2 separate regions of the Homo sapiens genome follow, and region 2 is linked to region 1. The links come from fine-mapping of genetic effects on gene expression. A gene starts in region 1. The other region holds a variant in brackets. All regions are shown on one strand. Distances are between the middles of the regions.

Region 1 (14,529 bases):
TGCCAAGGACCAAGCAGTTCATCAGATGACAGAGCGTTCACCTTGGCTCTGAGGAGTTGAGGTACAGCGGGGATTCTCACACTTGAGCTGCTGATCAAAACACAGGTTACTGGGTCCCAGCCCCAGAGTTCCTGACCCGGAAGGCCTGGGGCGGGGTCCCCAGCGTGCATCTCTAACAGGTTCCCACATGCTGCTGCTGCTGGGCTGGGGACCACACTTTGAGAGCTTCTGTGGTCCAGAAAAGAAAACTTCAGCTGGGGAATAGAATCCTTAACCCAGGGCTGGCAAGCAAAACAAAGAAGATGAACTTGACTTACTTCCCACTTTTGCCTCTGGCTGGTCTGTAATTATTTTTGAGAAGAGGAACTTGATTTGACTGACTCTATTTAATAAGAAGTCGTGCTAGAAAAGGGTTGTGCCATCTCTTATTAAGTGACCGCCTGGTTCAGAGACTTTTCAATTAAGTCCCATAGCCTCGGGCTTGAGGATGCATCTGAGGTTGGCTGTCTGCTTTGGGGCCTTCACAATCTAGGGGATGGCTGTGGCGTTTCACCGTCAGCTCAGGCCACTGGTCTTGGTTTCTCTGAACCCCGAGGTGATGGGGTGGTGGTTATTGTAATTCTGATTTCCTGTTTGGGAAGCAGTGTGGGGGTATTATTGGAGGAGTTAAAACACAGGGAATATCGTCCCCACCCAGCCCCATATAACCCACCAATCACATATGTATTCATTCTCTTTTGGTACTAAAATATACATAACAAAATTTGCCATTTTAACCATTTATTAATGTACAGTTCAGTGGCATTAAATACATTCACATTGTTGTGCGACCATCACAACCATCCATCTCCAGAACATTTGCATCTTCCCATACTGAAATGCTGTAACCATGATCACTCTTTTAAAATCTTTAACAGCTTTTATTGAGATATAATTTGCATATCACATAATTAACTTTTTTTTTTTTTTTTTTTGAGACGGAGTCTCGCTCTTTTGCCTGGCTGGAGTGCAGTGGTGCAATCTCGGCTTGCTGCAACCTCTGCCTCCTGGGTTCAAGTGATTCTTCTGCCTCAGCCTCCCGAGTAGCTGGGACTACAGGCGCACACCACCATGCCCAGCTAATTTTTGTATTTTTGGTAGAGACAGGGTTTCACCATGTTGGCCAGACTGGTCTCAAACTCCTGACCTCAGGCAATCCACCCGTCTCGGCCTCCCAAAGTGCTAGGATTATAGGTGTGAGCCACTGTGCCTGGCAATTCACCCATTTTAAAATGTATAATTCAACAGTTTTTAGTATATTCACAGAGTTGTGGAACCATCAACACAATCAATTTTAGAACGTTTTGTCACCGCAAAATGAAACCCTGTACCCATTAGCTGTCACTCCTCAATTCCCCCAGCCCCTGACAACCACTAGCCTACTTTCTGTCTCTATGGATTTGCCTGTTCCAGAAATCTCATATACATGGAACCATATAATAGGTGGCTTTCGACAACTGGCTTCTGTCACTTAGCATCATATTTTCAAGGGTCAACCATGTTGTGGCATAAATCAGTACTTCATTCCCTTTTGTATTCATTTTTTTTTTTTTTTTTGAGACAAAGTCTTGCTCGGTCACCCAGGCTGGAGTGCAGTGGTGCAATCTTGGCTCACTGCAGCCTCAAACTCCCAGGCTCAAGTGATCCTCCCACCTCAGCCTCCCATGTAGCTGGGACTACAGGCACACGCCAGCATGCCTGGCTAATTTTTGCATTTTTTTGTTTTTGTTTTTGTAGAGACAGGGTTTCGCTGTGTTGCCCAGGCTGGTCTTGAATTCCTGGACTCAAGCGATCCACCCACCTTGCCCTCCCAAAGTGTTGAGATTACAGGCATGAGCTACCGAGCCTGGCTGTATTCGCTCTTAATAACATTCAAATTTGAATTCATTATCTCCTCCACATCCCTACCCCAACAAAAACTTCCTTCTCCACTTAGTGGATTTCTCCACTTAGTTGAAACTCCATTATCTATCCAACTTCCAAGCCAACTAACAAAATATCTCTATTGAATCCTCCATCTTTGCTCCCTATCCTCTCGTCAAATCCACTGCCTCATCAGAGCCTGTCAAATGTATTTCAAAAATGGCTCTAGAATGTAACCTCTCCTCTTTGTTAGTATCATTGCCATCATATTTCTTGCCTTTACCACCTCTGGCCTGTTGCTGGCCTCCCACCTGCAAGCTCTTCCTCCAGTCCTTTCTCCACAGAGCTCACCAGTTACCTCCCTAAAAACAGCCTGCTTAGAAATCTGTGCTCCAGGCCAGGCACGGCGGCTCATACTGGTAATCCCAGCATTTGTGAGGCCGAGGTGTGTGGATCACTTGAGGCCAGGAGTTTGAGACCAACTTGGCCAACATGGTGAAACCCCATCTCTACTAAAAATACGAAAATTAGCCAGGTGTGGTGGTGCACACCTGTAATCCCAGCTACTCGGGAGGTTGAGGCAGGAGAATTGCTTCAACCCAGGAGGCAGAGGTTGCAGTGAACCGAGATTGTGCCACTTCACTCCAGCCTGGACAACAGAGTGAGACTCTGTCTCAAAAAAAAAAAAAAAAAGAAAAGAAAAGAAAAGAAAAAAGAAACCTGTGCTCCTACCCATTGCCTGCAGGGTCTTGTTTGATCTGGCCCTGACATAGAAACCATTTAGAATCAGACATTTCACTACACTCCTGCCCCTTCCACAGGAGACCCCTTGAAAATGCCATCTGTTCTGCAGACTCTGCACATCCTCACTTGTTCTTCCCTCTGTCAGGAACACGGGCCAATGTCTGTGCAGCCTGGAGGCTGAGCTCCAAAGGAACCCAGCCTGTGAAGGAGCCCCTGAGCTTAGCTTCTCCCGAAGGTTCTGGGACAAAAAGAGAAACTATGTTTGCAAGTCAATTCCTACTTTTAAATTTTCATTACCGATGAGATCAAAAGCCTCCCATAGTAATTTATCAGTTTCCATTTTTAAAAATTGGCCTGTTGATACAGTTTATTCCTATGTTAAATGCCATTGTTCTATTTAATGTTAACATTTATTTATTTAGACGGAGTCTTGCTCTGTTGCCCAGGTTGGAGTGCAGTGGCACAATCTCGGCTCACTGCAACCTGTACCTCCCGGGTTCAAACGAGTCTTCTGCCTCAGCCTCCCCAGCAGCTGGAATTAACGTGCGTGCACCACCACATCCGGCTAATTTTCATATTTTTAGTAAAGACGGGGTTTCACCATGTTGGCCAGGCTGGTCTTGAACTCCTGGCCTCAAGTGATCTGCCTGGGTAGGCCTCCCAAAGTGCTGAGATTCCAGGCGTGAGCCACCATGCCTGGCTTAATGTTAACATTTATTACAATATATATATCACACATATGATCTTAATGTCTGGTGCTTTGGGAACTTTTTTGATTATCATTTGATTTGCCTTTTAATTGTGAAAATGTAGTTCCTTACACATGACCCCTTGTGATTTTGGTGGGGGAGGAAACCAGCAGGATGGGTAGAAAACAGTAGAAACCATGTTTTTTGTTAATCTCCTGGGACCATTCTCCCAATTTACTATTTTCTTAGACAAAGCAGTGCTGTGGAAAAGGATGGAAAAATGTTCTTGGCAAGTTCATCTGTGCACCAGGGCTCTTTTTGCGCACTTTGGATACAAGCTTGTGTGACCAGTCAGCTTGGGAGTTGATTACTCAGGCATTCTTTGGATTTTTAAACGAGGACATCCTATTTTTGTAGCATTGTGGACATGCACGTCTCACCTTCTAGTTGCTTCCTTTGTGTTTTCCTTTGTTTACAAAGCGAGGCGTTCCCACAAACCTTGTAAAGAAGGTCATGGTTTAGCTGTTTCATAAGTGATCTACTTCTCTGATTTGATTCGTTTGTTCATCTTTATAGAGCAGGTGAACCCAGTCCTGTTAGATTTGCTGAAAAAGATTTACTGAAAAGGAAAAAGAGGGAAGGGAGTGGGTCATTCTAAGAGAGGCTATCAAGCCAGGTAAACATAATAGAGCAAGACATTTGTCATTAATATTTCTGTGGCTTTTGATCTAGACATCAGTTACCTTTAACCTGGTGTGCATGAAGCAAAGGAGGAATGGAAAAGCCTGCCTCAAAACCATCAGGCTCACACCTGTAATCCCAGCACTTTGGGAGGCTGAGGCAAGTGGATCACTTCAGCTAGGGGTTCGAGACCAGCCTGGTCAACATGGCAAAACCCCATCTCTATTAAAAATACAAAAATCAGCTGGGTGTGGTGGTGCACACCTGAGGTACATGAATCTCTTGAGCTTGAGCTCAGGAGGCAGAGGTTACAGTGAGCGGAGATCACATCATTTCACTCCAGCTTGGGCGACAGAGTCAGACCCTGTCTAAAAAAAGAAAAAAAAAAAGCCATCAGCACAGAGCCATGACTGCTTGCTTAAAGTGAACAGACACTCCTCAAAAGAAGCACTATTCACAATAGCAGAGACTTGGAACCAACCCAAATGCCCATCAATGATAGAATAAAGAAAATGTGGCACATATACACCATGGAATACTATGCAGCCATAAAAAGGATGAGTTCATGTCTTTGCAGGGACATGGATGAAGCTGGAAACCATCATTCTCAGCAAACTAACATAGGAACAGAAAACCAAACATTGCATGTTCTCACTCACAAGTGGGAGCTGAACAATGAGAACACATGGACACAGGGAGGGGAACATCACACACCAGGGCCTCTTGGGTAGTGGGGCGCTAGGGGAGGGATAGCCTTAGGAGAAATACCTAATATAGATGACGGGTTGATGGGTGCAGCAAACCACCATGGCACGTGTATACCTATGTAACAAACCTGCACATTTTGCACATGTATCCCACAACTTAAAGTATAATAAAAGAGAAAGAAAGAAAAAAAAAAGTGCTGTTTGCCAGAGTTCTCCAAGTAAAGTTACTATTTCCCCCATTTTAAATATGAAGACATATTTATTTCAGGGAAAATACTTTGAGGCTATGCAAATATTCTGTTTCTCCTTAAAGTTTCACCCACTCATTTGTGAACGGTAGTTGGATCATGCCTATATTAGCAGTTACTGTGATGTTCTAATGATGCTTTTCCCTTTCTCTCATTTCTCCTACACTTTAATTGGAATTCCTCTGTAAGGAAGACTTGTCCCTTCTCCTTGATATTTTCCCCTAGTCAGTTATTTAGTTGTATTTCTATAGACTCAAAGATATTAATTTTCTTCCAATACAATCATTAATTATTTTGTTGCTTGAATTGCTCCAGCTTTGGCCTTTGGGAGCCCTTTGGGGTTGGCTCCTGTGCCCTTCTGCTGTGCCCTGTCACCTTTGTTGAGTACATCTTTACTTTCTGGCACTGTGAGATTTTTACATTTCTCCATAAAGTTCATCAGAAGCACTATACAATGAGTGTCTTTTGTACAGCACTCAGCACGTAATTTATATTAATGTAAAGACAATATTAAAGGTTATCAAAGTATTGTTCATTAAAGGCAAATTACAGATGTTAAGTCCGAGTACTCAGAGATAGCAAGTATGAAAGACAGAAGCTCACCCACCTTCAATTTTTTCTTTTTTTTTGAGACAGGGTCTTGCTCTGTCACCCAGGCTGGAATGCAGTGGTGCAGTCACGGCTCACTGCAGCCTCAACCTCCCAGGCTCAAGTGATCCTCCCATTTCAACCTTCTGAGTAGCTGGGACTACAGGTGTGCGCCACCTCATCCGACTAATTTTTGTATTTTTTGTAGAGACAGGATCTCACTATGTTGTCCAGGCTGGTCTGAAACTCCTGGGTTCAAGTGATCTACCCACGTCGGCCTCCCAAAGTGCTGAGATTACAGGCATGAGCCACCATGGCCGGCCACACCTTCAGTTTCTATCCAAAAATATGTTACTACTACTGAGCAACATAGCGGTGCCTTTTAAGTCATACGATATCATTTTAAGTGTAACAGCTCCGATACTTTCTATTTCCAAACTGCATAATCTCCTCTGGTGGAAATGGGAGTTCAGTGGGACAAAGATGTATTAAATAAAATCCTATTTCTCTAGAAATATTCATGAGATGAATTTACATCATTTGAAATATTGCAATAACCATTTTGTTAAAAGATACTCTTGTAAGAGGGAGGCAGGATGAGAAATTATGCATCTATTCATGTCAGCAGCTGGATCTGAATCTTGATATTAACTTCCCTTGTGCTGGTCAGCAAAAGTTTCTCCAAGGAAAAATGAAAGGACAATAGGAACAATTCAGAAGAACTAAACAATAAGTGAAAAAATGGAAGGTTCATTTTCATAAGTCAGAGAAACTTAAAATGAAAAATAAACTATAGTGTTTTGGATAGAATCACCACAACTTTGTTTAGTTAAGGCATTAAAATTAGGGCACATGTCCCGGTGCGATGGCTCACGTCTGTAATCCCAGCACTTTGGGAGGCCAAGGCGGGTGGATCACCTGAGGTCAGGAGTTCAAGACCAGCCTGGCCAACAAGGTGAAACCCCATCTCTACTAAAAATACAAAATTAGCTGGGCGTGGTAGCGCATGCCTGTAATCCCAGATACGCGGGAGTCTGAGGCAGGAGAATCGCTTAAACCCGGGAGGTGGAGGTTGCAGTGAGCCAAGATCCCACCATTGCACTCCAGCCTGGGCAACAAGAGTGAAAGTCCATCTCAAAAACAAAAAAATAAAAAATAAAATTAGGACATAGCTCAGGGATTTTCAAAAATATTGTCTTGCCATCAGTCTTTCTTTTGTGGTAACGCAAATTTGACCACGCAGGAAGCAGATCAAGGAGGAGCGACACCGCATTCCTGTCCAAGAAGGAAAAGATATGCCTTGAAATAGACCAGAGAATAAACAAGACTCAAAACTTCAAGCAAGTCGGGCGCAGTGGCTCAGCCTGTAATCCCAACACTTTGGGACACCGAGGCGGGGGAGGATCATTTGAGCCCAGGAGTTTAAGACCAGCGTGGGCAACATAGTGAGACCTCATCTCTACAAAAACTACAAAAATTAGCCGGGTGAGATGGCACGTGCCTGTAGTCCCAGCTATTTGGGAGGCTGAGGTGGGAGGATCACTTGAGCCCAGGAGGTTGAGGCTGCAGTGAGCCATGATCACGCCACTACCCTCCAGCCTGAGTGACCGTGAGACCCTGTCTCAGAAAAAAAAAAAAAAAAGACAACAAAACGAAACAAACCCCCCAAATTTCAAGTGATCTGTGTTCACCTGTGTGAAGTTGGAAATAAAATTCCATGAGAAGACTGTCTTCTCCACATAGGACAGAGAGACCAAGCAGGACATAAGACAAACTGCTGATTTTTTCTTTTTCTTTGAGCCGACAGGGTTCCCGCACCCCATCTGCTGGTTTAGGTGTAGTGGCCTCTGTGATGCCTGGGTAAGTTTAGCTATGGGAAGGTATCATCAACAATGTTCAAAGACTTTTGACTCATCATTGTGAGAATGCACTGGGCAACCAGCCAAGAATCTTCAGCACTCCAGATAACAGTCCACTGCAAGGCCAGCACAACTGTTGCCATGTTGAAATGTACCCCATCACTTTCAGGGGTCTGAGGCTCTTTGAGAGAGGGTTAGGATGACCCACTGATACGGCCTTACCAAAGAGAACCACCTCTGGAATTGAGCAGACCCCCATACCAGTTCTTCTGGGGTTGGGGGAAAAAAAATGTCCCAGTAGCAGAGGGTTTATCCAGGCTCTGTGAGTTTCAGTGTTTGTCAACTCTAAGATGGTATCAGAAGGCTTGATTGCCCTGATTAGAACATGATATAACAAGACATGTAATGAGTGAGGCACCAGGGTGCCTGGAGGAGGAATATTTGAGTATTCATCATCCCTGCCTTCAACATTTCACATTCTTTTTTTTTTTTTTTTTTTTTGAGACGGAGTTTTTCGCTCTGTCGTCCAGGCTGGAGTATAGTGGCGCCATCTAGGCTCACTGCAACCTCCACCTCCCAGGTTCAAACAATTCTTGTGCCTCAGCCTCCCACGGAGTTAGGACTAAGGCATGCACCACCACGCCTGGCTAATTTTTGTATTTTTAGTAGAGAGAGGGGCTCGCCATGTTGGTCAGCCTGGTCTTGAACTCCTGACCTCAGGTGATCCGCCCACCTCGGCCTCTCAAGGTGCTGGGTTTACAGGCGTGAGCCACCGTGCCTGGCCCACTTCACATTCTTTTCTTTTCTTTTTTTCTGAGACGGAGTCTCGCTCTGTCGCCCAGTCTGGAGTGCAGTGGCACGATCTTGGCTCACTGCAAGCTCCACCTCCCGGGTTCACACCATTCTCTTGCCTCAGCCTCCGGAGTAGCTGGGACTACAGGCGCCCGTCACAACACCCAGCTAATTTTTTGTATTTTTTAGTAGAGACCGGGTTTCACCATGTTAGCCAGGATGGTCTCGATCTCCTGACCTCGTGATCCGCCCGCCTCGGCCTCCCAAAGTGCTGGGATTACAGGCGTGAGCCACCGCGCCCGGCCTTCACATTCTTAATCTCCGTGTTCTCTGATCCCTTTTTTAGGAGTCTGATATTGATGACACTAGGACTTCAATTGCAGCCTCTGTGTGGATGGGCCTCTTGTCCCTTGATTAGTCTCCTATTTCGATCGGTTTGACACACATGAACGGTATTTAGAAAGATGATGCTACTGATCTCTTGTTTGTAAGACCCTGACTTTGAGGTTTTTTGAAAAACTCATGAAACAGTTATAAGAACAATTTTCTACAGAAATCCCAGGACGGTAACCAATTTACAAGAGTTGCCCCGCCAACACAGGTGAGGTATGGAGACAGCCCCTCTCTTGGGTAGGGGGTCGGCTTTCATTTGTCCCTTTTGAGTCCACTAGCCCTCAGCCTCCTCCATTTCCAGGGGCCACTGATGTAATTTCTCTATTGTCTTACGTGCTCTTTGCCTAAATGTCTCCCATGTAGTTCACTATCGCTTCCTACCACCAGATGGTGGAAAGGGAAAAGGAAATAACGGGCCGGTAGAGGAATGTGGTGGCAGGCAGAGTATCTATGGCGAAAGGTGTGGTGGTGAATGGACCCAAAACGGAGCTTCTGAATTGCCCACGAATGCCCACGGATTCCCTGTTAACATTTTAGCGCCCACTCAAGGGTCGGCCGTCCAGGTCTGGGAGTCAGTAAGGCACAATAATGCCTGCTAGGGAGGGAGCCAGCCCTCATCTCAGCGGATTCCTGGGAACGTCAGAGCTCGGGAACATTCCTGAACACCCGAACCGCACCTGGCCCAGGCACTGGGGCGGGGCTTAGGCGGGTCCCAGCGAGGCGATGCGTCCCCTCGGCCCCGCTGCGTCCTTCGCCCGTTTTTCCCCACGTCAGTGCCACCGCCTCCTCTGTGCGGAACTCGCACCTGGCCTGCCTGCGTTCCCACGCCCCACCGAAGGGACGCCGCGTTTCTCTCCCTTCCAAGGGACCCTTTTCCTTCCCCTCCAACAGCCCCCCGGGAAAACTCATTCCAGATTGCCTCGATGCCCCAGGGCCACCTGCCATCACCCTGGTCAGGCGTTTGGCCCCGGGCCTGCCCTGGTCTCCATCCCCAGCCCGTCCTCCACCTCTTGTCGCCCCCTCCCGCTCAGCCCCCTTCTCCTCCTTCTCCACGTGCCCCTGCACTCCCACGCCCCTCCCCCAAGAAGCCCCTCTCCTCCGGTCTCGAGGAGTCTCGCGGCACTTCCCGGGGCGTCAGCCCAGCCGCTGCGGGTGGGTGGCAGCCGCGCGGAGAGGGGTGCCTCTGGCGCGGGCGGTGAGGAGGGCGCCCAAGCCCCTCAGCCGCAGGGACGCCCCCGGCGCCTGCCCCGACGCGGCCCCGGCCCCGGCCCCGCCCCTCTCCGGCCCCGCCCCCGCCCGGCGGCCGCGCGTCCCCGGCAGGCGGAGCTGCAGGAGCCTCGCGGCAGCGCTGAGGAGGAGGGGAGAGCGGGCGGCGCGGCCGCGGCTGCCGGGCGCTGGGCTGGGCGGCGCTGTTTTTTTTTTTTTTTTTTTTTTTTTTTTTTTTTTTTTTTTTTTTTTTTTCGCAATTTCCACTCGCGGGGAGCAGGAAACCCGGCGCAGCCGGGCGCATTGGGCCGCGATGCAACAGCAGCAGCAGGAGTCGCCCCGGGGCAGCAGCGGCAGCAGCAGCAGAGGCAGCAGCGGGCGGCGCTGAGCCGCCGCCGCCGCCACTGAGGAAGAAGCCGGCCCAGCCGCCGCCGCGTCCGGACCCTCGCGCCTGGATCCCAGCGCCCCGATCCCGGCGCCCCAACCCCCACGCCCGCCTCCGCCAACTTTCACGCTGCCTCGGCGGCCCGGCCCGGCTCGACGCCAATGGGTGAGTGGGGGCCGCCCGCGTCCGGGCGTCCACTTCAGCCTTGAGGGCGGCGCGCCAGTCCCAGAACCGCGGAGCCCGGGAGGGCGCCCCGGGGGCAGGGTCCGGACGGGGGACACCGCGGTGGGCGCCCTCGCCTGCCTCGCGCACCCCCATTCACTCCCACTTGCGCCCGTGTGCCCGCCGAGCCCGCGCGCGGCGCCGACGGGAACCCGCGGGGGCCTGAGCAGACGATCACGGGGGCTGGCCCCGGGCGGCTCGGGCTGAGGGATGCAGGGGGTGTGGTTGGTTTTTCGGGTGGGCGGGGAGAGTTTTGTCTTGGCCATTTTTGCACCCGAGCGCGCCCTCCTCTGCGCTGCGGACACGGGCACCCGGACCTGGTGGGCTCCGGCCCTGCGCGGGGCTGCTGGTGTCTTCCTGGTCCTGTCTCGGGGGAAGCTGGAACCTCGGGGTCTTGGAGGGGGCTGGGTTGCCTTTGCTGGGGGTTGACAGGGGTTGGGGGGTGGGGCGGGAAACGCCCCAGTTCCTGGTCTGGCTCGCAGTCCCGGGGTCCAGAGCACCTGACGCTCCTCTCCTTGCGCCCCCCTTCCTCCCGGCCCCGACCCTTTCGCTGCTGCCTTCCTCCAGCCTGGCGAGCTCTCTGCTCCGTGATGCTAAAAGGCCACTTCCCATACTGTCCTTTAAGTCTTCAGGGTCTGGGACCTGGAAATGGTGATCCGGTCTTTGATTTACTGAGTAAACATCAGTTCGAAGTAGCCAACTAACCTTTGAACCCCCTGGGTCCCATTTGATTTAGACCCCGGAGCATTGGAACCACCTTGCTGCCCAGAGAAGCTGCCACTTTATTGGCAAGGCACTTATGATTACTTGGGCTATTAAATGTTTGGTCTACCCAGGTAATGTTCTTGCTGACAGCCAGCTTCTGTTTTTCAGCCTCTGGCAGATTATTTTTGGATGTTCCTAGGCCAGGCATAGGAAGGCTGCAGATAATAATAAATCATAATAAAGTGAGACCTTTCTGTGTTCAGGTAATAGGATTCCAGTACACTAGTCAGGATGTTCAGAAAGCCTGAAGGATTGGAAAAGAGGAGGTTTAACCCAGTCCGTTGTTGACAGGCAAAGTTAAAATCCCATTTGTGGTCATTTGCCAAAAAAGGTTTTCCTTTTCTAAGTAGTGGTGATCTGTTGTCCCCTTGGCTTAAATGTCACTTTTTTCACAGTGCCCTTCTCTCCCACCTGTAGTCTAAATTGGTTCCTGTTCCATTTTCTCATACAACACCTTTTTTTTTCGTAGCAGTATTACATATTTGTGCGTAACAGTTATCTCCTCTACTGTAAGCTCTGTGACCATAGGGACAGCACAGTGTTGCATAGTTTGCTCAGCACTTTTGGTGTGTGGCACAGAGCAGGACCTAAATATTTGTTGAATGAATGAATGAGGGGCATGAAATCCTCCTCCTCTGCTGGGGACAGAACACTTAGCTCACTCTTGTTTTGCTTTGGCCCATAAGATGATTTAGTTCATTGGCAGAAGTATATACTTTAAACCTTACAGGCCACTTTAGTAATGGGTTAATTTCTCCCGAGGTAACCAAAAATTCTGTTTTGATCACCTTTCATTTTGGGTGGGTCACCGAGAGGGTTATGCACAAAAAGAAGTTAATCCAAATGTCTTCTCCCATGGCCAGACTGTGCTTTCTGTATCTCAATGAGAAGGGGACTGAGTCTCATTTAAGAAGAATCAGACCTATTTTTCAGATTTGAACTGTTTTCATTCTTCAGAACTTCCTACGAAAAATAGAGTGCTCCTGTAGTTTTTAGTCCTTTTGTACTTAATCTTTACTGCAACCATTATTGCAGGGGGAGGGGGCATCGATTTTCATTTATTTCAGGAGTTAATACTTAGAGGTGATAATGTCAAAACGAATGTAATTTAATTCATGTTTATAGTGGGATTTAAGGTGCTTATAGTAGTTTGTGGCTAAAAATCACCTGCTCTTTTGAAAGCATCTCCAGCAGTATATTTGTAATGAAGTGCAGTTATTTAACGGTTCATTCTGTATGTCTTCCAATGGAGTGATCTAATGGGCTGAGGTTGTGTGTATGCAGACAGAGGCCCACCCTTTCCCCCAAGTCTCTGGTTTTCAGATTTATCCAGTTTATCAATTTGATGCAATTTTATTCTTTTTTAAGAGGGAGGGTCTCGCTGTGTTGCCCAGGATGGATTTGAACTCCTGGACTCCAGATCTTCCCAAGTAGCTGGGACTGCACGCTCACACCACTGTGCCTGATTCTGATACACTTATATTCTTACCTGGCCTGATAATGAGTTTTCTCTTGATGGATAACATAGTAAAACTGTATCTTATATTTCGTTTTCTGAAAAATAACAGAAAAGAACCAAATCCCTAACCCTGAAGTGAAGCTGGTTAGTTGCAACATGGCCTCTTATAAAAGCCCATCAGAATGTGCCCTCTGAACTTGCTAGGAGATGCATGCCTACAGTGCCAGACACAGAGAAAGCCTCTTATAATTACAATTAAACAGATATTATGGTGACCCAAATCTGTGAGTAGTGAAGGGTTTGCAAGCCCACAAATGATTTCTGTTTAATTCCAGAGTAACAACAAAGTTTGGATAGCCTTTGGCAATGTATTTATTGTATTGGCGGTAGACTGCTGTATGCTAAACTAAAGCTAAAATGAACATAATGTGTTGGTCTGTACAAATGTCTTGAGTTAGAAATGGAAGAAAAGGCTCCCACCTTAATTGTACATAAGCTTTACCCACTTCTATCCATCTTGGCACGAGCAAAAGCTTGCTGTGGCTCTGGTTACACAAACCTTGGTGGTTTCTTCTCTTACTACTTCAGTTCTTTTGGCGTTACTGACATTCTCTCATCAACTCTTGAGTTTGTAGTTGTTTTTAATGTATTTTGCATACAGCAGTATTTGTTCATCTATCCATCCATCCATCCATCCAATGTTTGTTGATCTTCTTTGCATAGGCACTGTGCTAAGAACAGGTGCAGAACAGAGACATGACACTTTGGGCTTCTCAGTCTAATGAAGGCTGACTTGAATGCAATTCTCATGGCAGTATGTAGCTGAAAGCCATAGTAGAGCGCATGAAAGATGAGTGGAGAAGGCCAATCTGACTTAGCCTGGAGAGTGCCCAGGACAGTGTCTTAGAGGAGATTGTGTTTGAGCAGAAATCTGGTTGAGTATGAGTCATCACTGCCCTCCAGCCACACCTGGTTCTTGTGGCAGAGACTGAAAACGAGCACCGTGGGAACCGCGGGGCATCTCAGTAAGATGGTACAAGGAAGGATGACTTAGAGGGCTTGCACCTGTGTCAGGTGGCTTGAGGGCGTGTTTAAGGAAGCTGGGCATTACTTTGGATTGGATGCTACCAGGGGGAATTTGTGATTGGGTATTTTAACAAATGTTCTCTAGGAGCAGGGAACATTGGAGGCAGGCCACAGCTATGGTTGGTAAAGCAGCAGCAGTCATTTGCATTATCCAGGATTGGGGGATATTTGGTCATGTGTGTGGTTTGGACAAGGTGCATGTTTTGTCCGTGTTCAGACATGATTAATGTGTGGTCTTGTTTTCATCTTATTCCATCCTGGTCGCAGAGTGGCCTTGTCTGATGTTGGTTTTCTAGGGAATTGTTTCTGTTCAACAGGACACCCTGGCCCAGCTGTGGGTGCCTGGCCAGCTCCCAGCCAGAAGAACTGCTCTTTCTCCGAGTTAACTATGTGACAGGCAGGGGCAGGGAATCGGAGGCAGTGGGGGAGGAAAATGGCTTTCTAGGTATATCTGTGGCTACTTCATATCAACCAGGTATAGCCTGGACTGTTGTTCAATGCTAAGCACGATGGACATCTGAAATGCTATACTAAGGGAAGAGAGAGTGACAGAGAAAGAGCAAGCTGCTGAGAACCATGAAGTCAGTGCTAATGGGAAAGACGCAGAACAGGAAAATAGCCCAAATACTTAGTGTTAGAGAAGGAGAGCCTCTAATGCAGCGCTTCTCAGAGGGTGGCCCCAGGCCAGTAGCACAGCCTCCCCTGCAACCCGTTAGAGATACAGATTCTCTGGCTTCATTCCAGCAGACCTCCTGAATCAGGAATGCTGGGGATGGGGCCCAGCAATCTGCATTTTCATGAGT
Region 2 (8,000 bases), 220 kb after region 1:
AACTGAATGGTTTGCCAGGTTGGTTGTTTACTGGATTCCCTGCGGAGAAATCTTTCAAGAAGCTTCTTTCCCATGGTCTTCCTGTCTTAGCTGATTTCCGTTAGTGACTTCTGACATCTCTCTCTTGAATTCTGTCTACACTTTCTACAAGGCGTTGTGTTTGTAACAGCCTCTTTTTCAACTCTTGTCATCTTGAATCTCATTTATAGAATTATAGTCACCCAAATTAATGCCTTTATGGTATCCACATTGTAGCTTTTACTTGGGACAGATAATTAGAATTAAAATTGTGTATAAATGAGAGTGACTAATCAAGTTTTTAATTAGCCAAATTACAGTAAGAGAATTTAAGTATTTTCATACGTATCTCAGGTAGTCTTTTTTTTTGTATTTAATTTTTGTGGGTACATAATAGGTGTATTTATGTGGCACATGAGATGTTTTGATACAGGCATGCACTGTGAAATAAGCACATCATGGAGAATGGGGTATCCATCCCCTCAAGCATTTATCCGTTGAGTTATAAACAATAAAATTATACTCTTTAAGTTATTTTAAAATGTGCAATTATTATTGACTATAGTAATCCTGTTGTGCTACCAAACAGTAGGTCTTATTCATTCTTTCTATTTTTTATGTACGCATTAACCATCCCCGCCTCCCACCCAGCCCCCACCCAGGTAGTCTTTTTATCCATTCTAGTAAAAATTTATTAAGCTGCATAATCATATAAAATTAAAACATGTCAATAAGGTGATGATCTTAGTTCCTTAAAAATGAGAGATCTATGTCCTAATCCTTTGAAGACTAGAAATAAGCTCTAGAGAACTCCAGAAGCTAATGAGATATATACTCTTTGACTAATTAAACACAAGGGTCAAAACCTTGTTGTGATTATCTGAGACCTAGAGTATTGGCTGTCCCTCGTTTTGGTTGAAAAATAAGATTGTGTCTCTTGAGTTGTTGGAAAACCTGTGGTTTTTAATGAGCAGATGGTATTAAGATGCCCACTGGTTGCCTGGGTTGAATGAAGTGTTTGGGATTTTCAGACTTTGGCTTCTCTCTCCTCAGAGTGTCTCAGTTTTGTTTCCTGATCTGGAAAAAGTAAGGAAGGAGGAGGGGAGTTGGTAGGGAAAGGGAAACAGAAACAGTGAACCAGTATTACAGGATTATTCTTTGTCATGTTGGGTGCTGCTTTCTGTTTTATATATGTTTGATGTGAACTTTCTAAAACACTCAGCCTAGCGTATTTTCTAAGAAATATTTAGTTGCAGCCAGATTGTCACCAAGAATCATATTCCCAGAAGGTTTTCAAATTGTGTTAAGAGTATAGTGGTTGGCCGGGTGTGGTGGCTCACGCCTATAATCCCAGCCAAGGCAGGTGGATCATGAGTTCAGGAAATGGAGACCATCCTGGCTAACACTGTGAAACCCAGTCTCTACTAAAAATTCAAAAAATTAGCTGGGCATGGTAGCATGCGCCTGTAGTCCCAGCTACTTGGAAGCCTGAGGCAGGAGAATCGCTTGAACCCGGGAGGTGGAGGTTGCAATGAGCTGAGATTGCGCCACTGTACTCCAGCCTGGGCGACAGAGCGAGACTCTGGAAAAAAAAAAAAAAAAGTATAGTGGTTATTAAACATGGAGGACAGATAGCCCAGGTTCAGACTTCAACTCTGCCTCTTCCTGGGACAAGTTACTTAACCACTCAGTGCTTTTGATTCCTCATCTGTAAAATTAGAGTAACAAGAGAATCTACCCCAGAGGGTTGTTGTGAGGATTAAGTAACATGTAATGGTTAGAGAAGTGCCTGGCACATAGTAATCACTTGATTAACGTTAGTTATTATTATTGTTGTCCTTATTGTTATTAGAGTAGAAAGAGTACCTATAAATGACAGTACATTTTCCAGGGTTATTTCTATTTATTTATTTATTTATTTATTTATTTATTTGAGGCAGGGTCTTGCTCTGTCACCCAGGCTGGAGTGCAGTGGCATGATCTTGGCTCACTGCAACCTCTGCCTCCCGGGTTCAAGCAATTCTTCTGCCTCAGCCTCCCGAGTAGCTGGGATTATAGGTGTGGGCCACCACGCCCGGCTGATTTTTGTATTTTTAGTAGAGACGGGGTTTCACCATGTTGGCCAGGCTGGTCTTGAACTCCTGACCTCCGGTGATCCACCTCCCTCAGCCTTCCAAAGTGCTGGGATTACAGGCATGAGCCACCATGCCTGGCCTCTTTAATTTTTTATTATGGCAAATTTCAAACTGCAAGAAGTACAATTGAATTTTGCTATATCTGTGTTAGCTGTTTGTTTCATATCACCAAGTCTTAAATGTCAGCCACTAGAAAGTAAGTGCCATAATTTGGGACCTTGTCTGTGTTAGTCACCATTTACAGTTTATGAAAATAGTTGTCAAATGATAGTTGGCCCTCAGTAAATATTTGTGGACTGGATGAATGAAGATACTGTTTTGTGCTAATCCAATTCTGGTTGGGATCTGCTTGTGGTCTAGCTAAGATTCACTCTTCCATTTGTTCATTAATTCACTCATTCATTCATTCACTGAAGCTTTATTGAATGCCTTTTATGGATCAGCAGTGTGAAGCTTTATTGAATGCCTTTTATGGATTAGCAGTGGTATCTCTGGGATTTGTATGTAAATGAACAAAGGGGTGGCAATCCATTTGGAAAGGGATTGGCTAAATGGCATGTCTAGATGTTGTATTTGCATAGTAAGTGCGGTTTTTTTTTAACCTGACAGGTTATTTATTTGGGGTGGAGCAGATCTGGTGTGGTTCATCGGAATGGAGTTAACACCTCCTACCCTAAGTCACACCTTGGATCAGCTGTCATATACAGGTTTCTCATTTAATGCTTTGGATTGTCCCTACATTGGAGAGAAAGGGGGTATGTATAAAAGTCATTATAATGTAAGGGGAAAGACTAGCAGACGCATGTCCAAAGCATCAATGAGAATAGAAAGGAAGAAACTACTAACTTTCCTCCAGGTCAAGAAGGAAGGGATGGGATATCCTTGGTCTCTTTTTAAGGAATGTGGTATTTGAGCAAGGTGTTAAAAGACGTTGGGAATTCATGGTACTAGCAGTGTGCATGTGGACAAGGAGTGAGCATGAGTATGTTGAAGGAAGAGGTGGGTTGGGCTGGGGTGCAGGGGCTGTGGTGGTGGTAGTGGAGGAAGTGGGCAGCTGAAGGGGAGGTGGTGCCTCTTCCTGCAGGGCTCTGCCAGCCCACTCACAAGCTGCCCTTCTTCTGGGTGGGTGGGCAAGTTGGTGAAGGAGTTCAGTTGGGCAGCAGCATGATCAGATTTATACTTTAGAGAGATAACTGGGGAGGTGCTGAGGAATGTGGACTGGAGATGGGAGAGGAAGTAGCTGGGAGACTTGCCAGCCCCGGGGCTCCATGGTCGATGACTAATTGGCCAGGCACCAGGAACTTCTAGTAGCTCTTGGAAAGGGGCAGATGGGCCCACCTCATGCACACTCTTTAAGCTGGATCGCCGTTGCCTGGGTTGGCAGCAACACTGACAAAAGAGCCAAGTTTCCTTTCAAAGAAAATTCTTTTGTGTATTTTGGGAATGAAAAAGCCAGGAGTCAGCATTCTACTATCTTCATTAATAGATAGGCTAAGAAGATAGAGACAATTTTTAAATTTGAAGTTGAGAGGGCCTTGTTAAATAGATTTACATAGATATACACATGGGCATAAACATGTATAGCTATAAATCACAGATATGTGTTTATTTATATATACCTTTGCATTCAGCAGGTTTATCTTTCTAATTAGTTTTTTAATCAACTTTTAATTTTAGAGTAGTTTTAGATTTATGGAAAAGTTGTGAAGATAATAGAGTTCCCACATACCTCACACCCGGCTTCCTCTCTTGTTAACGTCTTGCATTAACGTGGTACGTTTCATATTATCTTTTTTTTTTTTTTTTTTTTTGAGACAGAATCTTGCTCTGTTGCCCAGGCTGGAGTGCAGTGGCGCCATCTCGGCTCACTGCAACCTCCGCCCCCCACCCCCACCCGATTCAAGCAATTCTTCTGCCTCAGCCTCCTGAGTAGCTGGGATTACAGGCACCTGCCACCAGGCCTGGCTAATTTTTGTATTTTTAGTAGAGACGAGGTTTCACCATGTTGGCCAGGCTGGTCTTGAACTCCTGACCTCAAGTAATCCGCACACCTTGGCCTCCCAAAGTGCTAGGATTACAGGCGTGAGCCACCATGCCTGGCCCATATTATCATTATTGACTAACATCCATGCTTTATTCAGATGTCCTCAGTTTTTATCCAGTGTCCTTTTTCTGTTGCAGGATCCCATCCAGAATACCACATTTAGTTTTCTCATCTTGTTAGGCTTTAACAGTTTCCCAGACTTTCTTTATTTTTGATGACCATGGCAATTTTCAGTTTTGTAGAATGTCCTTAAATAAGCATTTGTCTGAAGTTATTCTCATGAGTAGATTGGAGTCGTGGGTTTTTGGGAGGAAGGCCACAGAGGTGAAGTGCTCTCATTACATCATATTAATTCCATACTTATCGCTATAGATGTTAACCTTAGTCACCTTGGCTGACGTAGGTGTTAGTCAGGTTTCTCCGCTCGAAAGTTCTGGTTTTTTCCCTCTTTCCATACTTGACTCTTTGGAAAAAGGGTACTCTGTGCCCCTCCCACTTAAAGAGTGGGGAGTTTCATTCTACCTCCTTGAGGGAGGAGTATCTAAAGAAATGAT[T/G]TGGAATCCTTCTACACAGGAGATTTGTTTATTCTCCTCCGTCCTAGTTGGGTTTTGATAAGGGAATTTTTTTTATCTGTTCTCTGAATTCCAAATGCTAATTCTGTAGCACTTGTATTATATTTGTCATTTACTACCTAGTGACATCACCTACATTTGTGTGTGTGTGTGATAAGTAAACAGATTTATGTCTTATTTACCCAAGGAGATTGTAAATTTCTTGAGGACTGGGACAGCATCTTATTTAAAGCCCCTTACAGAGTTAGATACAGTGCAGGCAGTTAATAAATAGTAAGCAAATGGTTTTTAAATTAGTTTAATTAAAAATTTAAATATTAACCATAGTTAACTGAAACAGGTCATCAAAGTCTAAGCATATGAGAAATGTGGTAAGATAAGGATACTGTTTACTTGGCATCCTGATTTGTGAAATTGTCCTGAACTTGTAATTGTGGCTAATATGATATTTACTGTGTGCCAAGCACTTTTGTAAGTACTTTACATATATTATTTAATTTTCCAGACAGCCCTGTAGGTTGGTGCCATTATCCCCATTTTATAGATAAGGAAACTGAGATGAACAAAGGTTGAATAAGTTGTTCAGGATCACAAAGCCAGGAAGTAGCTCAACTGGGATTTTGATCTCAAACACTCCGGCTCCAGAGTTTTGAACACTTAACCACTGCGCTCTAGATTCATTGAAGTGGTGATTAAAATGGTATCTCTTTTGGGGGAAAGAACAAAATTGTGATTTAAATATTTCATTTCAACCTGTTAGGATGCTCCTGATGACATGGCAGCAATGTTGCTGTATTTTTCCTAGGGGGAGTATTTCCATAAAGCCACGGCTGTTTTTCCTTCTTCTGTGTGTGTGTGTGTGTATGTGTGTGTGTGTGTGTGTGTGTGTTTATGAGTAATTTTTGTGTAGTGCAACTAATTGCATTTAAAATACAGGCATGTTCATGATTGATATGTCATATACAGACTATATTCTAGATATCCCTCACTCTCTAGCCATGTGATCTGTTGAAAGATAGTGGGCTTTTTATTTCTTCTCTGGCATTTTTAAACAGACGTGATCACTAGGTCTTGCCAAATAAACACTCCCTCAGTGTGTTCCTTGTCCGAATGGTCACACCTGGGGGCCCCAGGAGGGAGCCCAGATTGCAGCAGCAACATAGGCGAGGGAGGAGGACTTCTCTCGAAGCCACCCAAGCCATGAATTGGCCCTGGCTTCCTGAACCATAAACAAATGCGAGCTTTGTTCTCCCCATTCCTCATTTGGTCCCAAGTATGACTCAGGGTTAGGCTGGGTCCTCAGGCTCCGTGCTGTTGGAAGGAAGTGGGAGGATTCCAGGGGAGTTCTGGGACCTTTTCAAACTGAAGAGAGGAGGCTGGCTGCATCATGGGAGAAGAGGTATTTCTTTTTTTTTTTTTTTGCTTTTAGAGTTGTAATAAATCCAGTTAACCTGTATCTTATCTGTATATAACATTTTGTAGCAAGACTGGGTAATGGGTTTGCATTAGTGGGTTGAAACAATGTGTGTGCCAGCTAGGATCCCACAGAGGGGAGCTATGGATAAGCTGAGGAGGAACCTATCAAGTATACGGATTATTTGCTAAAGCTGAATGTCACTCTGGAGCTATTTAGCCGTTTTAATCCCTCCCACTTTGGTCAATTTGGCCATTAATTTTTACAGATGTTTCCAATCTCTCTGTGTCTTGGGTTTTCATGTGCTCATATTGCAGAGAGAAATTTAGATGGGCAGTTTGCACAAGCGGTAACTGTTACACCATGTCACAGAGATGTTTAGCAATTACAGATGTTTGTGCAGTAAACAAATCCAGCTTGCTTTTCAGGTTAGCTTAGAGAGAAGGGTATGTCCATGCAGAGCAAGCCAGCTGTGGGGCGTTTCACTCTTGAGGGTCACCGACATTTGGAGTTTTCTTTGTGAGTGGAGCAGCTGTGAGTAGTGACTTCTGGGTGCTATTGAACTGCTTTTTTTATGATGGGGTAAAGATATTTGGCTAGTTTTGTAGTGCGGGGCATTTATAGGTATGTACTCATGTATGGAGAAAAATTAAGACACTAAATTATTTTGATTTTATAAAAGTTTGCTAGAAATAAGTGGTCTTGTTTTTCTCTGTGAGTTGTTCATATTTGTCTACCTAAAAGCAGAAGTCTGTCATTTTCCAAACACAAAATTCCCTAAATAAACCACAGGATAAGTAAGGCTTACAGTGTGTCATATGTCTTCCATATCCCTGTCTCTCATTGAAAAAAAAATTTTAAGGGGAGAATTGATGAGGTCTGTAAAATATGTCCCTTTATGTCTTTTTCTGTTGGCTTTAACTTATACTATTTTCAAAATTACAAAAAAAAAAAAATAGCGTGGCCAAAAGGAAACACATTGTTTTAACATATCATTTTAAGAGTAGGGGAACTTCTTGAAAGGTTTTTAAATGGCATCTGTTGCTTGCCTAGAAAGGAGGACAGAGGCAGATATATGAGGAGAGTGCCGTTAGGGGTTGGCTAGGATAAAAATATATTCATCGGCAATGGCTTGAGAGGATTTTCCTAGGGAAAGATAGCTTATGTTTGCTGATCTTATGCTGGATGTCTTTGTTCTGAGTTCTGATGAGTAGAAATCTGAATGAGGTATTTATATGCAAAATAAAGATGGTGAATCTTCTTCCTTGGGGAAATGAGTGAAAGCATGATTGATTGTAAGGTGTGAAAAACGTGGGAAAGTCTCAGCAGCTAGGGCCTGGAGATGGGAGAGGAATGGTAGCCCCTGGGGGGCCTGACAGGTTTTGCCTTGGTCCTGTGATGTCTGAGCTACTTGTTGCACTGGTAAGTGCTCCCTGAACCCTTTGCTTGTTTGTTTCTCAAAATGGAGGTAGCTCTGTTACTTCTCTCATTACAAGAGCTCTTTGTAATAATAATAATAATTATTATTATTATTATTATTCAAAGTTGAAGAATACAAAGAAATAAATAGAAATCATCCTCAGCTGAGTGCAGTGGCTAATGCTTGTAATCCCAGCACTTTGGGAGGCTGAGGCAGTTGGATCACTTGAGGTCAGGAGTTTGAGACTAGCCTCGGCAACATGGCAAAACCCCAACTCTACGAAAAATACAAAAATTAGCTGGGTGTGGTGGCATGCACACCTGTAGTCCCCAGCTACTCGGGAGGCTGAGGTGGGAGGATCGCCTGAGCCCGGGAGGTTGAGGCTGCAGTGAGCTGA

Alleles and levels. Positions count from the first base shown, and alleles are read on the strand shown. Sizes are in standard deviations (SD) of each study's normalised expression.
As copies of T replace G in region 2, the expression in tibial artery of the gene that starts at base 10,066 in region 1 goes up (small effect, 0.11 SD a copy in GTEx).

What was found. PIP is the estimated chance that this variant, and not a neighbour inherited with it, causes the effect. A credible set is the group of variants that fine-mapping cannot tell apart.
Region 2: its variant is the best candidate, but not a certain one, in a credible set for the expression of SH3KBP1 in tibial artery (GTEx, PIP 0.69).

Annotation. Positions count from the first base shown.
Region 1 is chrX:19,883,137-19,897,665 of GRCh38, reverse strand. It overlaps SH3KBP1 (SH3 domain containing kinase binding protein 1), which reads left to right and starts at 10,066. Exons shown (of 18, transcript NM_031892.3): 1 at 10,066-10,359. The coding sequence starts at 10,356. RefSeq lists an enhancer at 7,400-7,449 and silencers at 9,615-9,914, 9,975-10,044, 10,525-10,664.
Region 2 is chrX:19,669,030-19,677,029 of GRCh38, reverse strand. The region is part of intron 6 of SH3KBP1 (SH3 domain containing kinase binding protein 1); the gene reads left to right. Among named protein-coding and RNA genes, the nearest start is that of MAP3K15, 160 kb to the right of the region's middle. The variant T/G (reference allele first, on the strand shown) is at 4,752.